Homo sapiens: one gene and its partners. The protein of the gene in region 3 interacts with the protein of the main gene of each other region in a pairwise test. Each region holds a gene or a part of one and is shown on either strand. Other genes may lie near its edges.

Evidence for each region. The genes of interacting proteins can lie anywhere in the genome.
Region 1: the proteins of SCARA5 (region 3) and SLC35B4 interact in binary tests that used the Homo sapiens proteins (3 or more experiments, as listed by UniProt).
Region 2: the proteins of SCARA5 (region 3) and TMEM208 interact in binary tests that used the Homo sapiens proteins (3 or more experiments, as listed by UniProt).

Annotation. Positions count from the first base shown.
Region 1 is NC_000007.14:134,288,832-134,293,706, reverse strand, and holds the end of SLC35B4 (nucleotide sugar transporter SLC35B4), read left to right. Parts: 3' UTR 1-4,375; downstream 4,376-4,875. UniProt on the Homo sapiens protein: Antiporter that transports nucleotide sugars across the endoplasmic reticulum (ER) membrane in exchange for another nucleotide sugar.
Region 2 is NC_000016.10:67,221,467-67,229,778, forward strand, and holds TMEM208 (transmembrane protein 208), read left to right. Parts: upstream 1-5,663; 5' UTR 5,664-5,752; coding exon 5,753-5,758; intron 5,759-6,252; exon of another isoform or gene 6,253-6,369; coding exon 6,370-6,465; intron 6,466-6,888; coding exon 6,889-6,948; intron 6,949-7,028; coding exon 7,029-7,165; exon of another isoform or gene 7,166-7,191; intron 7,192-7,330; coding exon 7,331-7,415; intron 7,416-7,509; coding exon 7,510-7,647; 3' UTR 7,648-7,812; downstream 7,813-8,312. Other genes in the region: FHOD1 (FH1/FH2 domain-containing protein 1), read right to left, coding at 8,170-8,252. UniProt on the Homo sapiens protein: May function as a negative regulator of endoplasmic reticulum-stress induced autophagy.
Region 3 is NC_000008.11:27,989,002-27,997,488, reverse strand, and holds the start of SCARA5 (scavenger receptor class A member 5), read left to right. Parts: upstream 1-4,815; 5' UTR 4,816-5,232; intron 5,233-8,487. UniProt on the Homo sapiens protein: Ferritin receptor that mediates non-transferrin-dependent delivery of iron. Mediates cellular uptake of ferritin-bound iron by stimulating ferritin endocytosis from the cell surface with consequent iron delivery within the cell.

The DNA of each region.
Region 1 (4,875 bases), on a different chromosome or scaffold from region 3:
GAGCCATGGCTGTCCCTGTTGGCCCAGCCGGGCACTCACAGGGCAGAAGGGTGGGTCTCAAGTGGGAGGATAAGGCTTCACCACCAGGAGATTCCCCTCTGCCCGATGACTCTGTTAAGAGTCACGACCCATCAAGGGAATGCATAGATGGAGATATATAGTGTGTGATGTGTAAATCAGGTCAAACCTCAACGACAATTGAAAGTTGTTATTGTCCTATGAGGTATCTTAGCATTCTCGATGGGTATTGAGGATGGTTGGATGTGCTTTATTGTGTGTGGAAACATGCCTCTCTTTGCTAATCATTTCAGAGGTCCAGTTTTCCTTTCACTGGACAATCTTGAATAGGAGGAACGCTGTTGCTGTAATATGCGTAGCTTCTGTGTGCTCTTGTGTAGTCTGTGTGTGATCAAAGGGCACGGAAGTGGCTGCACTTTCACATCCCTTTTCTTTACTTAGCTGGAACCTTACATACCAGTACATGCTCCTCTGTAAGCAGCTGAACTCACCGGCCACTTCTCTGTTTGCCTATAGACAAAGACTGTGTGTGTGTGTGTGTATGTATGTGTGTGTGTGTGGTGCACACATTGTGTTCTTAAACTGAGACGTGGCTCTGCAGGTCTCCTGGGCTCATTCCATGGTGTGGTATGTTTATTCCACTGTCCAGAGCTATTCTCTGATGGATTTGAGCAACAGCAGTGGAGATAAATGTCCTAGAGTCACCAGGTCGCTTGGAGAAGTCATTTAAGCTGCCTCGGGTTTTTGTTACTTAAAATGTGGATATTATTTCTCCACCTAAATCACTGAGTTTACAGAGTAATAATGTGTTGCTCTGGACATTGACAGCTTTCTAGAGCCAGTAATGGGCTCTTCTGAAGGATGCTGAATTAGAAGTGAACCTATTCATAGGATCAAAAGCCACTTGCTTTGAAATATGTAGAGTTCCTCAGAATTGACGGTGCTAGAAATATCCAAGTGTTAAATAACCTTTTAAAAGCAACAAAAGCTACTTTTTTCTTACCACTTAATAGAAGAACCTGTCCCTAGAGGCGACTTCATTGCTATGGATCTGGAGTCTCTGAACTCTTAATAGGATGCAGCCTCACATACATAATGTCACCCATTTTATGTTGATGAAAACATTACAAGTTTTCTTCATTGGGTATGTGTTGATGTTCACAGACAGTACTTGGGCCCATTAGGTTTTCGCGTCTGGTCTTAGAGCATGTGTATTCATCTCAGCGTGAATACCTCAGCCAGTCTTATGAATAGGAGGCTATGTATGGGCAGGGAATAGATTAGATTAGAACACTCGCACAAGATGACCACATATAGAAGCAGAAAGCCCCAAATTCCCTGGGAACTGTTTTTTCTCTAGTAGCTGAATATAAGGAAATATGTCTAATGGACACCAGTTAATACTTTTTAAAACTACTCTTTAAAAAAAAAATACGTTCCCCTTGGTTAACTGATTTTTTAATCCAGGGTGGACATTTTTTCAACCTTTATTAAAAAGACAAATAAACTATTTTGTAGAAGATCAGACTCCTACTTAACTGGAAGAGAAATGTCTATTAAATGTCTCTCCTCTTTCTCTGGGTCAAGACCATGTAATTTTATGCTTCAGAGATGAAGATACTGTTTGTTTACAAAGAGTTTAGTTTTTAAGACATCCAAAACTCTATGCTAGAGCAAAAATCAAATAGCAAAGGACACTAGCCAGAAAATACAGTGTGTGTGTGTGCACCTGTGTGCCTGCTGAACAACTTGACAGTGTAACAGATAAGGTAACTGAAGATGGTGGATATTTGAATTGTATTAGCTTAATGTCTACATATCTTTGGCCAAAACTCTATTGTCATATTAGAAACATGTTATCTTTTTCATGTTTATTAGTAATTTATTTTTGATTCTTTGTTTTCTTTTTCGTCCAACTAAAACAACTGTAATGTACTTGATACATTTATATCAAGTTCTAAAGTATTTAGACAAATCCAAATACTTTGTTTTTAGTTTTTTCCTCCTTTCCATCCTGTTAACCACAGTGAAACGCTGCAGTATTTTGATTTGGTCAGTGCTACGGAGGAAGACCATGAAAGCTGAATTGGTCTGTGCCACCCAGAGTAAACCTCTTCTCTTCTTCTGGAAAGATGGCGTGATGTTTTTCAAGGATTCTAATAAATATCCCGCAGTCATCTCCTGAGCAGCTTTCCTCTGTTTCACTTCAGAACTCCTTCCCCCACTTTCTTCACTCCAGTTTCTTCACTTGCAGCGTTTTCTGCTAAGAAAGACTTATCATCTTGTATCTGTTTATGCCTCTCTTCTTTGGGGCCCCTGGATGTTTTTGTGGATTTTTACAGAGTATTTATATCTGCACAGCGTGTATTTTGTTATACATTCTTACAAGCATTGATATTGGGGGGTACATTCATAATAGTGAGAATATCTGGCAGAATGTGTGAATGCCATATCTGTAGATGACGATGAATGTGAAGGGTTAATGTAGAAATGTTTGTTTATTCTGTTACAGCTCAAAATGGAGGCTGAGAATCTCTACCACCATTCCCTTCTCTATTTGAGAATCTCTACCACCATTCCCTTCTCTATTTGGGAAACAATACTCTCTTATTTTGCTATTTTTACCTTCCCATTAACTGGCTTCACTCAACAGTGCCAGATACCTATGGAGAGGGGAAGTAAAACACCTTAGGTCAGGAATAATAAACCAATGAGTTAGCTCAGGGCCGGTGGACATGTTCACTGGTGGACCAGTTGGCATTGACCTAAACGGACAGAGAAATGCACATGGAGGAGAACTACGTTGAAATCAAGATCCTATGTCTGTTGTATTTTCTCTTTGCCTGGAGTAAATAGCATTATAAGTCATTCCACCCTTATTAGATAACCAAAGCATATTGGTCTCAATAGCTTTCTCCTGAAAAATGTGATTGAATCTTACCTGTAGCAGTTCACTCTTAAGGTTGAAAGAACTGTCAATATAGATAAAATCCATTCCTTATTATTATTGATTGGTGTGACATTTGAAAATGTGTCTAAACAATATTTGTAAGTAAAAGAACCAGTCATAAGCCTCAAATGTGTTCAGTGTGTACCAAGCTGGAATGGGAGACTGGCCCCTCTTGGCTTTAAAGTAGCATGTTGTCTTTTTCTAGCAGCTTCTTCCTAGTAGACATTCCAGGGATGGGAGGGGCCAGGGATCATGTCTTACTCATTTCTGTATCGCCAGCCCCTGGCATAGTGTCTGGCTTATGTTATGTGAATAAATGAATGCTTGCCAAGATCTCTTCTTCCCTCAAGTTTCTGGAAAACCTGAGGGTTCGTGATACCTGTTCCCACTCCTCATCAGCGGGTTGGCAAGAAAGCAAATAAGGGGAAACATTTTTAACATTCCAAGCAAGAGAAGGAAGAACGACTATTGGGAGGAGGTACACCAGAGATTGCTCAGTGTGCAGCCTGCTACCTCACTTTTGGCTCTGGATTGCCTGGTGGTAGAAGGGAAGAGTATTATGTAGTTAGCACCTTACATATTTGATGCTCAGGAAGAAAGTGCAAGAAGATCCCTAATAGAACATTAAAGATTCTTAAAAGTTTTTGAAGTAGGCTGCTTGGGGTGACCAGCCCCACCCTTACATCTCCATAGTTGGTACAGTTAGCTTGTAGCAGCTGAAGCTGATGCCTGGAGATCACTGTCTGTTGGTCTGATCTCAGTATCATACTGAGACACCTCCCCTGAGCCTTACCTACTTAAATTGGTAACCGTCCTACCAAAATTTGTCAATTTTAATCAAGTGAGGCAAGTTGCAAGGGAGCCAGAGATACGTGAAAAAAGAAAAGCAGAAATACTGATACTTTCTAAGAAAGAAGTTGTAATAATTTCTTTGGCACATTGACTTACTGATATCTTTTGAAATGCATAGATGACTCTTGTGAACCAAAGAGAGCAGTAGTGGTTATTCCCCGGCGCAATAAAAATGCCTTTGTGTATCACTTGCGATTGCCAGTCATTTCTGTGCCAGTTGCTTTCATTCCAGAGAATGGCCTCATTCTCCAAAAAAAGATGATGATTTTAGAAGTAGGATTTCCTAACAAATTATGTGGTGGGGAGGGACGGCGGGGATTTTATTCATCCCGTCTGAGCTCTTCATACAGTATTACCATTAGGTTTTAAGAACAAAGATGGGGGAGGAGGGAGTAGAAAGCTGAGAGTACGTAGAACAGCTACAAGACATTAGTGGGTATTCAGATTTTGAGCTGTGTAAATATCAAACATCGGCTTCCAGCCTTAAGAGTTATTTGAGCAGAGAGTTAAGGAGGAATGGGAGATTTTGTGAATAAAATGTTTTGCCAAACTGAATGAGTCTTTTTGCCATTATTTCTTATAGAGAGCTATTTTTTACCTTCTGAAACAACTCATCAGACATCTGGGGTTTATCTTGAATTGTACCATCATTGTTTCTTAATAAAAGTGATAAATTTCTTGCAGGTGTTTCCAATCACCATTACCTTTGAAGTGCCTGTGTGCAGTTTCAAAAGCTCTCCAATTTTTACCTTGTATAGTGGTGGTGGCATATTTTACTACAAACGATTGTCAGCAATCTCTCTTCCTAATGCCTCGCAGCTGGATCAGTAATAAACCACTTCTCAGGCTGGTTTCTGCGCCAGAAATTAGTTTACAGAGGATCAGCCTACTTTTGGAAGTTTTAGAGGTTTGTGGCAGTACATTCTATAGCAAATCTCTCAAAACCTCTTTGCCTTGATAGAAATACACTGACTTTTGTCAGCTGCAGTGACCAGCTCTCTTTGTCTTTGATATGTTGCTTTTAAATAAACCTCAGCTGGAAAGTAACTCTTCAA
Region 2 (8,312 bases), on a different chromosome or scaffold from region 3:
AAAAAAAATTAGCTGGGCGCGGTGGCGGGCGCCTGTAGTCCCAGCTACTCGGGAGGCTGAGGCAGGAGAATGGCGTGAACCTGGGAGGCGGAGCTTGCAGTGAGCCAAGATCTCGCCACTGCACTCCAACCTGGGCGACAGAGCGAGACTCCGTCTCAAAACAAACAAACAAACAAAAAACATATATATATATAAATTAGCCAGGCATGGTGACATGCATCTGTAGTCCCAGCTACTCAGGAGGCTGAGGTGGGAGGATCACCTGAGCCTGGCGAGGTCGAGGCTGCAGTGACCTGTGATTGCACCACTGCACTCTAGCCCAGGCAACAGAGCAAGACTCTGTCTCAAAAACAAACAAATGAAATTTTTAAAAAATTAAATCAAATTAAAATTTTAAAGAGAGGCCAGGTTTGGTGACTCACACGTGAAATCCCAGCACTTTGGGAGGCCGAGGTGGGTGGATCATGAGGTCAAGAGATCCAGACCATCCTGGCCAACATGGTGAAACCCCATCTCTACTAAAAATATAAAAATTAGCTGGGCGTGGTGGTGCATGCATAGTCCCAGCTACTCGGGAGGCTGAGGCAGGAGAATTGCCTGAACCCGGGAGGTGGAGGTTGCAGTGAGCTGAGATCATGCCACTGTACTCCAGCCTGGTGATGGAGCGAGACTCCGTCTCAAAAAAATAAATAAATAGAAATAAAAAAAGAAGCGCGGCACAGTGGCTCACGCCTGTAATCCCAGCACTTTGGGAGGCCAAGTGGGTGCAGATCACTTGAGGTCAGGAGTTCGAGACCAGCCTGGCCAACATGGCGACACCCCATCTCTACTAAAAATACAAAAATTAGTCAAGTGTGGTGGCACACACCTGCAATTCTGGCTACTTGAGAGGCTGAGGCAGGAGAATTGCTGAGGCGGAGGTTGCAGTGAGCCGAGATTGCGCCATTGCACTCCAGCCTGGGTGACAGAGCAAGACTCCATCTAAAAAAAAAAAAAAAAAATTAGCTGGGCATGGTGGCGTGTGTCTGTAATCCCAGCTACTTGGGAGGCTGAGGCAGGAGAACTGCTTGAACCCAGGAGGCAGAGCTTGCAGTGAGCCGAGATAGCGCCACTGCACTCTAGCCTGGGCGACAGAGCAAGACTCTTATCTCAAAAAAAAAAAAAAAAAAAAAAAGAAAAAGAAAAAGTCCATACAAATGGAATAGAAAAATACTAAGACCTTAATAGTTAAATGGATACAGAACATGAATAAACAAAAGGGGGAAATATGAAGGGTGAACTAATGAGAAAAACAGTGCAACCTCACTAATAAACAAATCAAAATTAAAACAATGAGCCATCACTGCCTGCCTTTCAAACTAGCCCAGATGTCTGCATTCACCTCCTGGCTGGCCTCCTCCCTATGCTGTCTCACTCTCCCAGTCCACTCTGCACTGCAGAGTTCTAATACAAATCACGCTGTGTCACTTGCCTGCCTAATGGGCTCCTTGATGGTCACCAGGAGAAAGCCAAACTCTGCTGCCTGGCACATCTGCCAGCTTGCAGCCTGATGCCATTCTAGCCTCGCCTCCTGCCATGTCTCACTTAGTTCCAGCCAAATGGAACTTGTGTGATTGGTTCCACACCATGGTGCCTTCACTTATGCTATTACTGATCCCAGAAGCCCAACCTTTCTTCTCATCCTGTTCCTTCAGGAAGCCTTCCCTGACACCACCAGTCTCCTCTGGATGTCCTTCTTCATGTTCCGTCAAACTCTTTTTTTTTGAGACAGAGTCTCGCTCTGTTGCCCAGGCTGGGGTGCAGTGGCGCGATCTCGGCTCACTGCCATCTCTGCCTCCCGGGTTCAAGCGATTCTCCTGCCTCAGCCTCCAAGTAGCTGGAACTACAGGTGCACACCACGCCACCACACCCAGCTAATTTTTGTAATTTTAGTAGAGACAGGGTTTCACCATATTGGTCAGGCTGGTCTCGAGCTCCTGACCTCAGGTGATCTACCCGCCTTGGCCTCCCAAAGTGCTGGGATTACAGGCGTGAGCCACTGCGCCCGGCTGTCCCCGTCGAACTCTTTCTTCCCAGTGTCACAGCGCTGAGCACACGATAGCATGATCATTCATATTACTCGTCTTTCTCCTTCACTGGAATGTGAGCTCCTTAGGGAACTATGTCTTATTTATCTGTATAGCCCCAGCACTGTACCCAGAGCCAAGTATGTATGAATGTATGTATATATGTGTATGTATGAGCATATGAATGGATGGATGGATGGATGGATAGATGGATGGAGATACATGAGCAGGGCCACGAGTAAGCTGAAGTAAGAAACACCTGAGGATGGGACGGGGGAGGGTGGGTGCCTTACCTCCCGAAGGGCATTCTGGGCAGCACGGTACCAAGCCCAACTCACGAGGGAGGCCTCTTTCTGATCTGACAGAGGCAGGAAGCTCAGAATATATGTGAGCATCTGAGGGAAAAAGACAGGGCATTGGGGACTGTTAGAGGTGGGAGGTCTTTGGAACCCACTCCAGCTGACAGCACCATGGGTCTGAGGGCACCAGAGCCCTGGCTTCTACTTTATCTTGGATGTGAAGCTTCACGAAGCATTCACTTCCCCGCTCCAGGCTTCAGGTATCTTTCCTGTAAACAAACCTTTCCTGAGCTGGGTGCAGGCTTGCACTGACTGATAAGAATCAAACTTCCTGCCTAGCTGGGTAGAAAAAGCCTGGGCATTGAGGCCAGATAAACCTAGTTCAAATCTCTACTCTGCCAACTGACCTCTCGAACTTTGTTTTCCTTATCTGTGAAATTGCAATTGTAGTGAGATTTAAATGGATTATTGTGAGAATTAAAGAACACAGCCAAGTGTCTTGCATAGGACCTAGAGCACAGCAGGCCAGGTGTGCTCACTCTGGTCCTCAGGAAGTCATGCTTGGTCCTCCTGCCCTCATGGCTCAGGCTCTGGGACCCTGCTGTTTTTCTGTCTTCTTCACTGCCACCTTGCCCTCTCCACTGGTTGTTAAGATGCGCTCCCAGCAAGACCTAGCCTGGGAGGCTCAGGCCCTTCCCCCCACCTAGGGGGTGGTGAGGTTAGAGGTCCTAAATGGGACTGGGGAAGGGGTTACCAGTGAGGCCTAGAATGATTTGATATTAACTCTTCTTTTCTTCTGGAATCTTCCTCCCTGCATCCCAATTGTCTCGTTTTTGGATTCTTCTGTGGCTCCCAGGGCTCAGACCTGGGTCTTTTGGTTTTCTGTTTACCAACACAGGAATAACCAACAATTCAATATTCCCATATTGTCCTATTATCCAAGTGCTAGTCCATATTGCCAACTGTCCATGCAAATGTTTAGCCATCACTTTAATCTCAACCAAAACTCATGTTCTACCCTCAGCCCAAAACAGCCTCTCCTCCCAAATTCCCCTTTCAATGCCAACAGTGCATCTACCTGATAACACTTTCAACTATTCAAACCATTCTGTCCCTTCCTCCCAGATACAGGTGTAATGCACAGGCTTTAGGCCAGGCTAACCTAAACTCATTCAAATTCCAGCTCCACTACTTCCACATATACTGATGTGTGACCTTAAACAAGGTACTTGACCTCTGGGAGTTTCAGTTTCCATATCTATAAAATAGGGATACTTTAAAAAAATCTAGATCATAGCCTCATGGGGATTAAATTTTACATATATATAGTGTGTGTGTGACAACTAGATGTTCCATAAATGGTTGCTGGATTGCTGTTACTAAAATTTCTACCTCTGCAACTTCCCCACCTCAGTAGCTCAGATTTCTACCACCCCAAACCTGGATTCCTTCCACAATCTCCCACCTGAACTCTTTGCCTCCAAGTTCATCCTTGCTAATACATTATGCACACTGTCACAAGGTTAATTTTTCCTATAAAACAGTTTTCAGTTTCAGCTCACCCCTGCTGTAAAACTTCAGGGTTCACAGTACTCTCAGGACAGTCTCCACTCCTGGATCAGCACTGCCAGGCCTCTGTGCCTGATTGGACTCGCTGGTCCCCAAACTTCCCCAGTCCAGTCTCCCCATTGCCCTACGCACACAGCATGTCTATTTCCTTTTGCCTATGCGGGCCTTTTCCCTGGGATCCCCTTCTTGAAGCTTAACTTCACCAACCCATTGTGATCTCTCCTTCCTTTCTCAGATGCCAAGCACGCAGGCACAGTGCTCAGCCAGTGCTTACTGGATTAAATTAAGGTTGGACAGTCCAGTCCTCTACCTCTATTTTCACCAAGAGTATGCTCAGGGAAGGGGTCGGGGAAATAAAGCAGTCATTACTGAGAGGACAATGACTGGCAGAATAGACTTCTGGGCCAGGAAGGGAGGCATAGGGAAGACAGTATTGATGGGGACTGGGACTGACCAAGTCCCAATCCCTCCAGGGAGGCACGGAAGCCTGTTTGAGCTGAGTTAAGACAGTGGCCATCCTGTCTTCTGGGGCTAAGCAGCCAGCCCAAGAGCAAAGGGAGAGGGGAACAAACCTGTCATCCCTTGGGGTGAGTCGGGAAGGGACACAATTCATTGACCTAAGAAGAGGGTGGCCTTTCTAGAGGGACAAGAGGAGGCAGTGATGAGGATGGAGTGACCATCCCATGAGTCCCATCTCAAGGGGGCTACTGGAGATAATGATTGGTCACTCATGGGGTCTATGGGGATGGAAATAGATAGCCCCTAAAGCTAAGGGGGAAAGGGATAGCACTGCAAGCTCAATAGGGGTGGGAACAGGCCTATTTTTGCTAAGGACAGGAGCATCATTCCAGGACCGATGGGAAAGGGTGGCCTGTTTCCCATGGGCAGAGAGAGGGGGCTGCCAACCCTCAGGACAAAAGAGATGGAGAAGCCATTCCAACAGGCCACTGAAGACAAAACCTGTTATCTCCCTGGCAGATGGGGCAGAGTGGTCTTGCCCCTGGCTAAGGGGAAGGAGCAAACATCCCACGGAGTGAAAGAGGTAAGGGCGGCCATCACTAGGGGCCTAGGAATGGGGAACAGGCCTATCCTTGTTAAAGGAACTCAGAGATCATTGCAGTTGATGGGGAGGGAGCAGTCTGTTTCCCACTGCCAGGGAGAAGGGGCGGCCGTCTCTGTAGGAAATGGAGAGATCATCCCAAGGGACCAATGGGGATAAGATCAGTTACCCTTCGGGACGATGAGATGGAGCGGACATCTTCCAGAACTGAGCGGGGAGGAGACAGCCACTTCAAGGGAAGGGGATGGGCAGAGGGCCTGTTCTCGCGGAGATGACAGGGCAGCTATCTTCTGGGGCCGATAGGGAAGGGGAGGACGGTCCCCCAAGCTAAAGGGACAGAGTGGCCCAAAGGAGGAACCGTTACCCAGAGCTAGAAGGTCCCGGGATCGGGAGGGCGGGTCGTTTCCGCCAGGCTGGAGGGGCCGGGCTAGCTATCTGACAGCCCCTCCCCAAAGCTCAGGACCGCGAGGGCGGGGCCTGTCCAGAGCTAGGCCTGAGGGCGGCTTCCTCTCACCTCCAGGGGCAGCGACTCCGCCATCGCATCCCTGCCGCCTCCGCCCCCACTGCGCAAGGCTTTCTGGGAAATGTAGTCTCGCCTCTTTGGGGCGGGGCTTGGGAAGGAAGTGAGACCTATTTCCGTCGCAAAAGCTGACGACTTCGGTCTGCGCCGGAAGTGCATGAGCTGCCGATGTGGTGCTTAGTGATTGCGGTTTCGGTCGCTCTCCCGTGTTTCCCGGGCTGGGTATTTGCCTCGCACCATGGCGGTAAGGAGGATGGATAGGGCGGGGTCCGCACCAGCAAAGCTCTCCAGGGGCTGTGAGAGTGAAAACTGAGAAAGAACATTAAGGGATATGGGGTGGGCCAGAGCGGGGCGCCATCCCTGGCCAGACCGTGCTAGAGCTGGGCTGGGGGGATGGCGGCGCAGGACCATACCAGGACTAGTGCCAGAGCGGGGTGGGCATCAGTACCAGGGCAGGCCAGAGATCTAAGTGACCTGAGGTGGGGGTTAACCCAGATCGGGACTACGCCAGCGGAGGCCTGAGAGAGGCACCATTCAACTCCGCTCAGGAGTACCCTTGGAAGAGTCGTTAGCCTAAAGCCAGACTACCACGGGATCCAGAGGCGGTATTAGCTTAGGATTGAATTGTTCCAGGGCGAGCAAGAGGCGATTGATCCTAGCTGCGGGTGCTGGAGAGATGGCGTCAGCCCTAGGCAGAATGGACTGGAGGATGGGTGGACATCCCAGGGATTTTGCTAGGTTTCTGCACTACGGGGACCTGGCTGAGTTGCGGATGGAGCTCTATAGCTCACCAGGCTGGTGGGGAGAATGAGGAGGACCGTGGCCTCCTGACGGCATCTCATCATTCCTCTGCAGCCCAAGGGCAAAGTGGGCACGAGAGGGAAGAAGCAGATATTTGAAGAGAACAGAGAGACTCTGAAGTTCTACCTGCGGATCATACTGGGGGCCAATGTAAGTGCCTACCTCCTTGCTTCTATGCCCACTTATAGTCAGTTCCCTAGTCCTCAGCCCTGCTTGGTGACGAGGAGTGGTACCCGAAAAAGCTCTAGAAGAGAGCTCCAGTCAAAAAGAAATGAGAGATCTGGGCACAGAGAAAGTGCTAACTAGTAAAACACAAAGAAAATGAAGGCGTGAGTCGTAGCTGAATTTGAGAGCTCTTCCTACCTCCAAGTACACAAAGGCTTCTTTCCTGGGCTGAGTTGGGTGTCAGAGGAGAGTGGGTATTTGGGATTCAGGGAGCAGGGCCCTTTCTTCAACCCTGTAAGAACAACCTTGCTCCTCCCACAGCCTGGCCTAATTCTTGGTCAGAGTTGAGGGAGACCCATGGTTTGGAGGTAACTTCTGACCCCAACCTGATCCTGTGATTGCTTGCAGGCCATTTACTGCCTTGTGACGTTGGTCTTCTTTTACTCATCTGCCTCATTTTGGGCCTGGGTAAGTATCTCCATCCTGGGAGGTGGATGAGTGCGTAGGGTCAGTGGCTGGCCTTTGATACCCTCATTCTTGCTCTGCAGTTGGCCCTGGGCTTTAGTCTGGCAGTGTATGGGGCCAGCTACCACTCTATGAGCTCGATGGCACGAGCAGCGTTCTCTGAGGATGGGGCCCTGATGGATGGTGGCATGGACCTCAACATGGAGCAGGGCATGGCAGAGTGAGTGTCCCCCACCGCCAGCCCAGGTGAGCGGCCCCAGGGCTGGGGCCCAGATAGCCCAAGAAGCACAGCTACTTGTAACTTGAAAAGGGTGGAAGGGAGTTGCAACTTGAAAAGGGTGGAAGGGCCCATATGCTGTCTTTCCAGCTTTATTTCTATCCACAGGCACCTTAAGGATGTGATCCTACTGACAGCCATCGTGCAGGTGCTCAGCTGCTTCTCTCTCTATGTCTGGTCCTTCTGGCTTCTGGTATGTGGGCTGGGGGCGCTCCCAAGAAGGGGCATCTAACCCTCCCCATCTTTTATTCCCTGCATCTTGCTTCAAGTTACCGTTTCTCTTGTAGGCTCCAGGCCGGGCCCTTTACCTCCTGTGGGTGAATGTGCTGGGCCCCTGGTTCACTGCAGACAGTGGCACCCCAGCACCAGAGCACAATGAGAAACGGCAGCGCCGACAGGAGCGGCGGCAGATGAAGCGGTTATAGCCATTGACATTGTGGCCACAGGCCACTGGCCCTGGGTGGCTCTGTCAGGGTGCACAGCCCCTCATGCCTGGAGCAATGAGGGTCTAGTCCAGGGGCCAAAAGCAGTCTGAGGTATTGGGTATACTTATACTCTATAGGGTCGTTGAATAAATGGCTTAGAATGTGGCTGATGGCTGTGTGGGTGATGAGGGATGAGGCAGGAAAAGCTGGTCCTATGGGATTTCCCTCCTGCTACAAACCCAGCCTGGTGGGGACCCTGAAAGAAGAGAAACCTGTTGGATTAGCTAAGAAAATTTTATTTTGCTCCGTGCGTTCAAGGAGCTCACACACATGCACATGCATATGCATGCACACACACACATACACACACACTCACATGCATACACACACGGCTAATACTGCTCAAGGCATGGCTCCTGGGCACAGAGTTCTGGGGCCAGAATTCTGCTCTGGGCCCTCCTCACTCTGTCATCTCCTGCACTGCAGTCCAGGGTCCAGATAGATTTCCGGGATACAGCACCTTCACACCTCCAGGCCAGGACCCTTGCTTAGTCCCAGTGCCTGCACCAGGTCATCTCCGAGCCCACTCTTCAACGTCCTTCTCACTGCAGGGACAGAGCAGGGTTGGAGGGGGTTGATGGGGTTCAGGTGGGCAGTGGGATTGT
Region 3 (8,487 bases):
GTGCTGGGATTACAGGCGTGAGCCACCGCACCCAGCTGATTACATACTTCTCACCAAGATATTTTTACAAAGCTGAACAATAATAAAAGATAAACACTGGTTTGTAAACGATGGACAAAAATTGCTTTTGAAAAGCACTTATATTTCATGTGAACCAGATTAAAAACTAACCAAAAAGAAAATACTAAAGGTAAACATTTTCGAGTGTATTTTTGCAGAGTAGGCCACAGATAAAGAAATAGCAAGGTCCCTGGGGTAGTCAAATTCAAAGAGACAGAAAGGAGAATGAGTGGTGCCAGGGGCTGGAGGACAGGGGACGGGGAGTTGTTGAATGAGTGGAGTTTCAGTATTGAAAGATGAAAAGAGTTCTGGAGACTGGTTGAACATCAATTCAAATGTACTTAACACTACTGAACTATGTATTTAAAAACAGTTAGGGCTGAGCATGGTGACTCATACCTGTGATCGCAGCACTTTAGGAAGCTGAGGCGGGTGGATCATTTGAGTTTGAGACCAGCCTGGCCAACATGGCGAACCCCCCGTCTCTACTAAAAATGCAAAAATTAGCTGGGCGTGGTGGTTCACCCCTGTAATCCCAGCTACTTGGGAGGCTGAGGCAGGAGAATTGCTTAAGCCCAGGAGGTGGAGGTTGCAGTGAGCTGAGATCACGCCACTGCACTCCAGCCTGGGCCACAGAGTAAGACTCTGTCTCAATAAATAAATAAATAAATAAATAAATAAACAAACAAACAAACAAATAAATAAGGGTTAGGATGGCAAATTTTATGCAATGTGTGTTTTACCACAATTAATTTTTTTAAAAAGTTTAAACAAGAAGTAGCAAACTATAATGAAGAAATATGTAAAAAAAAAAAAAAAAAGAAGCAAAAATATGAACAGTACAGGATCGATGTGTTCCCTGGGAGAAGATAGAGACAAAAAAGAAGGGCGTGGCCTCAGCTCCACTCTGTGCTCAGGGTGAGACCCAGGCTTCCCTCTCCCCTGACCTCCTCTCTCTGGCCACTGCATCCTCTGTGCTCTGGCCACTGGGCCTTTCTCTGCCCCTCCGGCATGTCCAGTGTGTTTCCATACTGAGGCCTCTGAGCCTTCTGTTCCCTGTGCCTGATGCTGTTTCCTCAGATTGTCACACAACCAATATTTCTGGAGCGTGTACTGTGCGCCAGGCACCCTGCTAGGCATTTTGAAGCACTCAAGTGAGCTGCCTTCCTGGAGCTGCTGTTCTAGCAGACAGTAAGCAAAACCAAGCAGGGTGAGGGGGACTAAGAGTGGCAAGGGGTGTGTAGCAATTTTATTTATTTATTTATTTGAGATCAGGTCTCGCTTTATCACCCAGGCTGGAGTGCAGTGGTGCAATCCTGGCTCACTGCAGCTTCGGCCTGCCTGGTTCAAGTGATCCTCCCACCTCGGCCTCCCGAGTAGCTGGGACTACAGGTGCCTGCTACTGCACCCAGCTAATTTTTGTATTTTCGGTAGAGACAGGTTTTCACCATGTTGACCAGGCTGGTCTCAAACTCCTGACCTTAAGTGATCCTCCCGCTTTGGCCTCCCAAAGTGCTGGGATTGTAGGCGTGAGCCACCATGCCTGGCCTGTGGGTAGGAATCATTAGGCTCAGCAGCATGAACAAAGTGACATTTGAGAAAAGATGGGAATGAGGCAAAGAAGTTAGTTGTGCAAACATCTGGTGGAACCACTCCAGGCAGATGGAACAGCCAACCCCAAGCCATAGGGCAGGACCTGCTGGTGTAACGGGCCCAGAGTTCAAGTCAACAATCAGACTTAATGACATAATTAAAGGTGCTCAACTTCATGAGTCATCAGGAAAATGCAAATTAAAACCACAATATGGCACCTCTACAATGCACCAGAGCAGGGAAAATGGAATAAACATCACTGACACTGACAAGGACAAGGAATAAGTGTAGTTTCATCCCCTGCTGGATATAAACTAGTACAACCACCATAGGAAACTCTTTGGCAGTGTCTACCAAAGCTGAACACAGGGCCATCCTATGCCCTGGCGATTCCATGCCCAGGTATATGCCCAAGAGAATGGCATTCATATGTTCCCCAGAAGACACACACAAGAATGTTCACAGCAGCACCATTTATCAGAGTCAAAAATGGAGTCTGGACATGGTGGCTCACACCTGTAATCCCAGCACTTTGGCTGGTGGAGGCGGGAGGATTGCTCGAGGTCAGAAGTTTGAGACCAGCCTGGGCAAGATAGCGAGACCTCATCTCTACAAAGGATTTTAAAAAATTAGCTGGGTGTGGTGGCATGTGCTTGTAGCCCCAGCTACTCAGGAGGTTGAGGTGGGAGGATCACTTGAGCCTGGGAGGTCGAGGCTGCAGTGAGCTATGATTGTGCCACTGTACTCCGACCTGGGTGATAAAGTGACATCCTACCTCTAGAAAAAACAAACTGAAAAAGCTTGGTCCCTCCATTTCAAATACTGAGATTTCATAGATGAAACTACTTCAGAAGTCTATTGAACCCTCCTCTATCAAGGCAATCACATTTTCATTCAGCTTCTGGGGGGGAAATGCCTACTACAAATGCCATCCGTGATTGAATGGAAGCAAATCATTTTGGGGACAATTCTGATTTTAGTGGCAAGGAGGTATCTGAGCTAAGAGCTGCCGGGAGGACTCTCACCCATGAGAAAACCAGCCCTCCAGGTCATTCCTATACTTCACTGTCAAATCTCCCTTTGCCTGTTCCGGCAGCTTTATTCATAATAGACAAAGATTGGAAACATCCCAAACCCCCTTCAGCAGGAGACCGATATACACATTGTGTGTGGTATGTGCCTATCACGCAATAGGACTCAGTGCTTCGAACAGGGCGGGAGGTGGGAGGACAAGCGAGGATGAGCGTGGAGTCCTCACATGGCAGAAAGGCAGAGGATCAAGCCAGCCCACTCCTGCAAGCCCTTTCTACGGCATCCCAAATACATTCATGACTCAAATACCCCCACAAAGGCCCCACCTCCCAACACTGTTGCAATAAAGATTACATTTCCAATGCTTGAATTTAGGGGGACACTAACTACCACATTTCTTGCTAACATACACATCTCTTTAGGGAAGGTCTTTGGACATCACTTTTTTTTTTAAGACAGGATCTTGTTCTGTTACCCAGTCTGGGGTGCAGTGGTGCGATCACAGCTCACTGCAGCCTCAAACTCCTGGGCTCAGTTGATCCTCCCATCTCAGCCTCCCAAGCACCTGGGACTACAGGTGTGCATCACCACGCCCAGCTATTGTTTGTATTTTTTTTTTTTTGTAGAGACAGGGTTTTGTCATGTTGCCCAGGCTGGTTGGACATCATATTTTGAGCACATTTCTGGCTGTTTTTAAGATTACATTCCTAGGAATGTTGGTGAATTGATGGGGGACAAAAACATTTGTTTCCCCTTGAGAGGCAATGGTACAGGGGAGGGGTTAAGAGCATAGACCCTAGGATCACATTGCCTAGGGTTGAATACTAGCTCTGCCACTTACTGGCTACAAGACCCTGGACAAGTCACTTCCTCTCTGTCTCTGTAAATGAGCATAATAGCAGCACCTGCCTCAGGGGGTTGTTGAATAGGTTCAATGAGCTAATATATAAGAAACACATGGTATATGCTATAAAGTGTTGTCTTCTTTTCCTTCTCCTCCTCCGCTCCCTGGGATTATTACCATAATGATACAATTATCATTTGTTCTTTCTGTAAAATGGAGTTTGATGTTGGAGCTGCTTCCTAGGCAGTCAGGCAGGGCAGTCACTGAGAATGAGGACGGCGTTTCTGACTCAGCTGTGGGCGGGCAGCTGCAGTGACACAGCTGAGTCTTGGCAAACACTTTTCATGTACGAAGCCTGACCCTGGAGTCTTGAGGCTGAACTTTTCACCAACAAACAGGAATGCATTCATGAATGTTACCTCTGGGTGCTGTCCTCTGGAAGCCATCTGCATAGCCTAACTCTGCCACCCTGGCTTGGACAATTATGGTGATTTCTCTGATGCCCCTGATACTACCACCTCAATCTGAATTTAGCAGCTCCCTTCACATATGGTTAGATTGCCTTTAAAGAGATTTTTTTTTTTTTTAGAGATGGGGTCTCACTATGTTGCCCAGGCTGGTCTTGAACTTGTGGGTGGGCTCAAGCAATCCTCCCACCTCAGCCTCCCAAAGTGCTGGGACCACAGGTGTGAGTCACTGCACCCGGCCTAGATGTCCTTTTTCAAACGTAAGCAATCATGCTCAGGTTTAGGATTATTCGTGCCTGGGTCCCCCTCCCATACTGAATTGCTATGGACAGCCAGCTAGTCTTCATCCTGCACCCCCCAGCCCCTGTGCAGCGTTAATGAGCCAGAAACGCTGATTCTGCTGCTGAGTTCCGTGGAACCCCCTGGGGCATTTTCCTGACTACCCCCAGTGTGGCCAATCCGTGTCCACTGAGGATGAATGTGACTCCAGGAAAATACATGAAGTAACTCTGTGCCAAGCTTGGTGAATGAATTGAGCCATGCCAATTCTGTGCTATAAATAAATTTACAAGACTGGTTTTCTTGCGTGGCTCATAAGCCAGGTCTAGCTGCCACTCCCCCAGAAGTCTTCCAAAAAGTATTTTGAGCAGGACCTTTAGACTGGGGTGTTGGAGTCCCAAGGCCAAGGCCGACCGCGCTGCTCTGGGCCCAGCGGGCGTTCCCACACGGGGCTGTAATGCCACGATTGGCCGCAGGAGGGGGGCCGTATTCCAGACCCCATTGCAGAAGCCTCCGCAACTGCTCCAAGAACTTTATTTTATACGGACTGGCGGCGAGAGCAGCTGCAGTTCGCATCTCAGGCAGTACCTAGAGGAGCTGCCGGTGCCTCCTCAGAACATCTCCTGATCGCTACCCAGGACCAGGCACCAAGGACAGGGAGTCCCAGGCGCACACCCCCCATTCTGGGTCCCCCAGGCCCAGACCCCCACTCTGCCACAGGTTGCATCTTGACCTGGTCCTCCTGCAGAAGTGGCCCCTGTGGTCCTGCTCTGAGACTCGTCCCTGGGCGCCCCTGCAGCCCCTTTCTATGACTCCATCTGGATTTGGCTGGCTGTGGGGACGCGGTCCGAGGGGCGGCCTGGCTCTCAGCGTGGTGGCAGCCAGCTCTCTGGCCACCATGGCAAATGCTGAGATCTGAGGGGACAAGGCTCTACAGCCTCAGCCAGGGGCACTCAGGTGAGTCTTGGTACTAATTTTGTCCTATCTCCTGGGCATGCTGTCTCAAAGACAGCTGGAGGAGACTGGAGTGAACTGGATGGAGAGGAGTACAGAGTTTGGGAAACTTCAGACCTAGAGCCTGGAGGTGCCTTCTCCAGGTGGGAAGGTCCCCGCCTGCTGGGCCCGCAGATATCTGCCGGGCCCTCATCCAACTGCCTGGGCTGGAGAGAATGTGAGCCTGCATTTGGGGTGCCAGAGGGAAGCTATTGCCTTGGTGGCTACTCCACCTGACTCATGTCACAGCTCAAGAGCCTACTCAGGGTGCAGATGGCTCAGGTGACAGCTCCTCTCCATGGCTTCGTGTGTGTGCATGTGTGTGTGTGCATGTGTGTGTGTGCATGTGTGTGTGTGTGCATGTGTGTGTGTGTGCATGTCTGTGCGTGTGCATGTGCCAGTGGTGGGATATATGTGGGGAGAGGTTATTTCTAAAATATCTGTCTCTGTCCAGCTTTGGGTTATGATTTAGCTTAACTAAGTACAGTTAGAGGAGGAAAACATTTAAAACCTCCTTAGTGATTCTCTCTTTGGAGAAGGGCCACACTCATGTGATTTTTTTCCTTGGTTTTGATGAGTTTAAAGTGAGGTAATCCAAAGAAAAGCCATAAACCCTGCAGAGTTAGATGCGGGTACCCAGAGAAACTGACTTGGTAGCAGCAAATGAGGCTCGTGCTACCCACTCAGAGGAGGAATTAATGGAGTCCTTCTGATCTCCAGAGAAGGATTGAAGAGCCAGGGTCCTGATATCAGCCCTAGAGTGCATTCGCGATTGCCTTTTACAAAGGGAACTTCAAACAGCTTTGTTTCTGAGACTGGCTAGGTAGGAGGGAGGCCTTGGGAACCTGGACACCCCCTTACCTGGCTGCCAGGCAGAGTCAGAAGATGCTGGGGGATGCTTTTTCTCATCAGACTGCCACCAGCTCCCCTGAGTGACCTTGTTCATAAAGTCATGCCACATGCATTATCTCACGGGAGGCTCACAGTGATCCTGGGTGACCAGCAGCTACCCACCTTCCCATCTTAGAGGTCATGTACCTGAGGCTGAATGAGGTCAGGTAATTGAGCCAAGTTCCCCCAAGAAACCAATACGCAGAGGAGCTAGGATGGGAGCCCTTGGCTTCTGTGTTCCCTGCATTCCTGCAGAGAGCCAGGCCTGCAGGGCGCAGATGGCCCCAGGGCACAGGGCTGCAGGGCACAGATGGCTGAGGGCTTTTCCAGCTCTAAAATGCAGAATCTAGAAGCAGATCCCTGGCTCTGAACCTGCCCTTCTAAGTGCCTTGGGTGAAATTGTCTGGAAGTAAATCATGATTGCCAAGAGGTTAGTGGAGAGGGTGACACCTCCCTGTTAGAGCAAGACCTCCCTCTTTGAGTTGCAAGTTGAGGTCCAGTCTCCTTGGGCTTCATCCACAGGTCACTGTGGCTTCCACATCTCGCCCATGTGCTTCAAGCTCTCAGAGCCCTGCCTCAGTCCCAGGATCCCCACCTGCTGGAGTACACTGGCTGGCAGTCTGAGGTGGGATTCTCTTCTCTGCCTGATCTGGGGCCCAGAAAGTGGTCACCAAAGGGGCTGACATGCAATTCCCAAACAAAGCAACCCTGCAGCTGAGCCAGTGCCCTGTGTAGGAAAACTGTGCCCGGGGCCTCTTCCCGCTCTGATATCCATTCCTTCCTTTGCCTCTTTGGTCTGGGATGGCTTATGTTTAAAATGGGAGGGACGGAATGCAAATGCCATCAGCCTACCCCCAACACAGTGCTCCTGGGAGGAGCACTTGCCATCAGTTTCATCTTCTAGAGCACAGACTTGGTCCAAAGACAGTAAGATCCATGATCTGAGGGTCCCAATGCCTGCTTCCTCCCCCAAGAAAGAAAAACAGCCCCCAAGAAACCTTGGGCAGACAGAACATGCGTAGGTTTCAATTCCAAGTAACAAACATGAGTAGAGTTGTCTGAGCTTTTCCAAGCCCTGTGCACTCACATCTGGCCCCGCTCGGCCCCAGTCCCTCTCCCCAGCAGATCCCCTGGGCTCCTGCTGGACCAGCTGAGGGGTGGGGAGGAGGAAGGAGACAGCTGCCCTTCACACACATTCTGGCTAACAAGCCGTGCATTCCAGCCCCGTCCCAGGAGCTGACCAGAAGAGGAGGAAGGTGGAAATGGCAGTGGGGCCTCACACCTCCACTCCCCAGGGGCAGCGCCCTGTCTGGCTCTGTGTGGCCTCTGGGAAGCAGAGGCTATTGCCTTTGGCAGAGGGAGGGTTATTGCAGGCAAAAGAGACATTGGCCTCCTGCTTCACAGCCCCGCAAGGAGTGAAGCCAGAGGGAGGGCTGCCGCACACAGTGCTCATGAAATGAGGGAGGGTCCCTTGCAACTTAGCAGTGCTGGAGCTGCCCGCGGCCCCACCTAGAGGCCCTGCCTGGGTGGAGGCATTGGGTGGAGGGCCGGAATTGGGAGCCCAGTGAACTGGACACCACTGCAGCACAGGGAAGCCAGAGTGGGTGGTGTCTGGGGCAGGGAGGAGAGATCCTGGCAGAGCCGAGGACCACCCCCTGTTCCATCCCTCCCATAGGCTGGAGGAGAGGCCCGCAGATACTGGGAGCCCCAAGGCTGTGTGTGTGCACATGCGTGTGTGTGCCCGTTATGGGGGATGTACAGAAGGGCTAACAGCAGAGGCGTCCAGCCCTCCTGGGTCATTAGAAGGACATGTATACAGTGACTGGTCAGTTCTGGTCTCTTCTCAGCCCAAATGTCAGAGGTCTGTGGAGGCCAAGCTCAAGTCATGAAAATAGGGGCTTCAGCTGGGTGCAGTGGCTCACACCTGTAATCTCAGCACTTTGGGAGGCTGAGGCCAGTGGAGCGCTTGACTCCAGGAGTTCCAGACCAGCCTGGCCAACATGGTGAAACCCCATCTCTGCAAAAAATTAGCTGGACATGGTGGCTTGTGCCTGTAATCCCAGCTACTCAGGAGGATGAGTTGGGAGGATCACTTGAGCCCGGGAGGCGGAGGTTGCAGTGAGCCAAGACTGCACCACTGCCATCCAGCCTGGGCAACAGAGTGAGACCCTGTCTCAAAAAAAAAAAAAAAAAAAAAAAAGAAAGAAAGAAACAGAAAAAAAAAAAGAAGAAAGAAAATACGGAATTCTTGTTTTGCTCTGCTGCAGAGCAACCCCGCCAGCCGCCTTCCCTGATTATGTCTATTTATGAAAGTTGCCACGCCTCCTT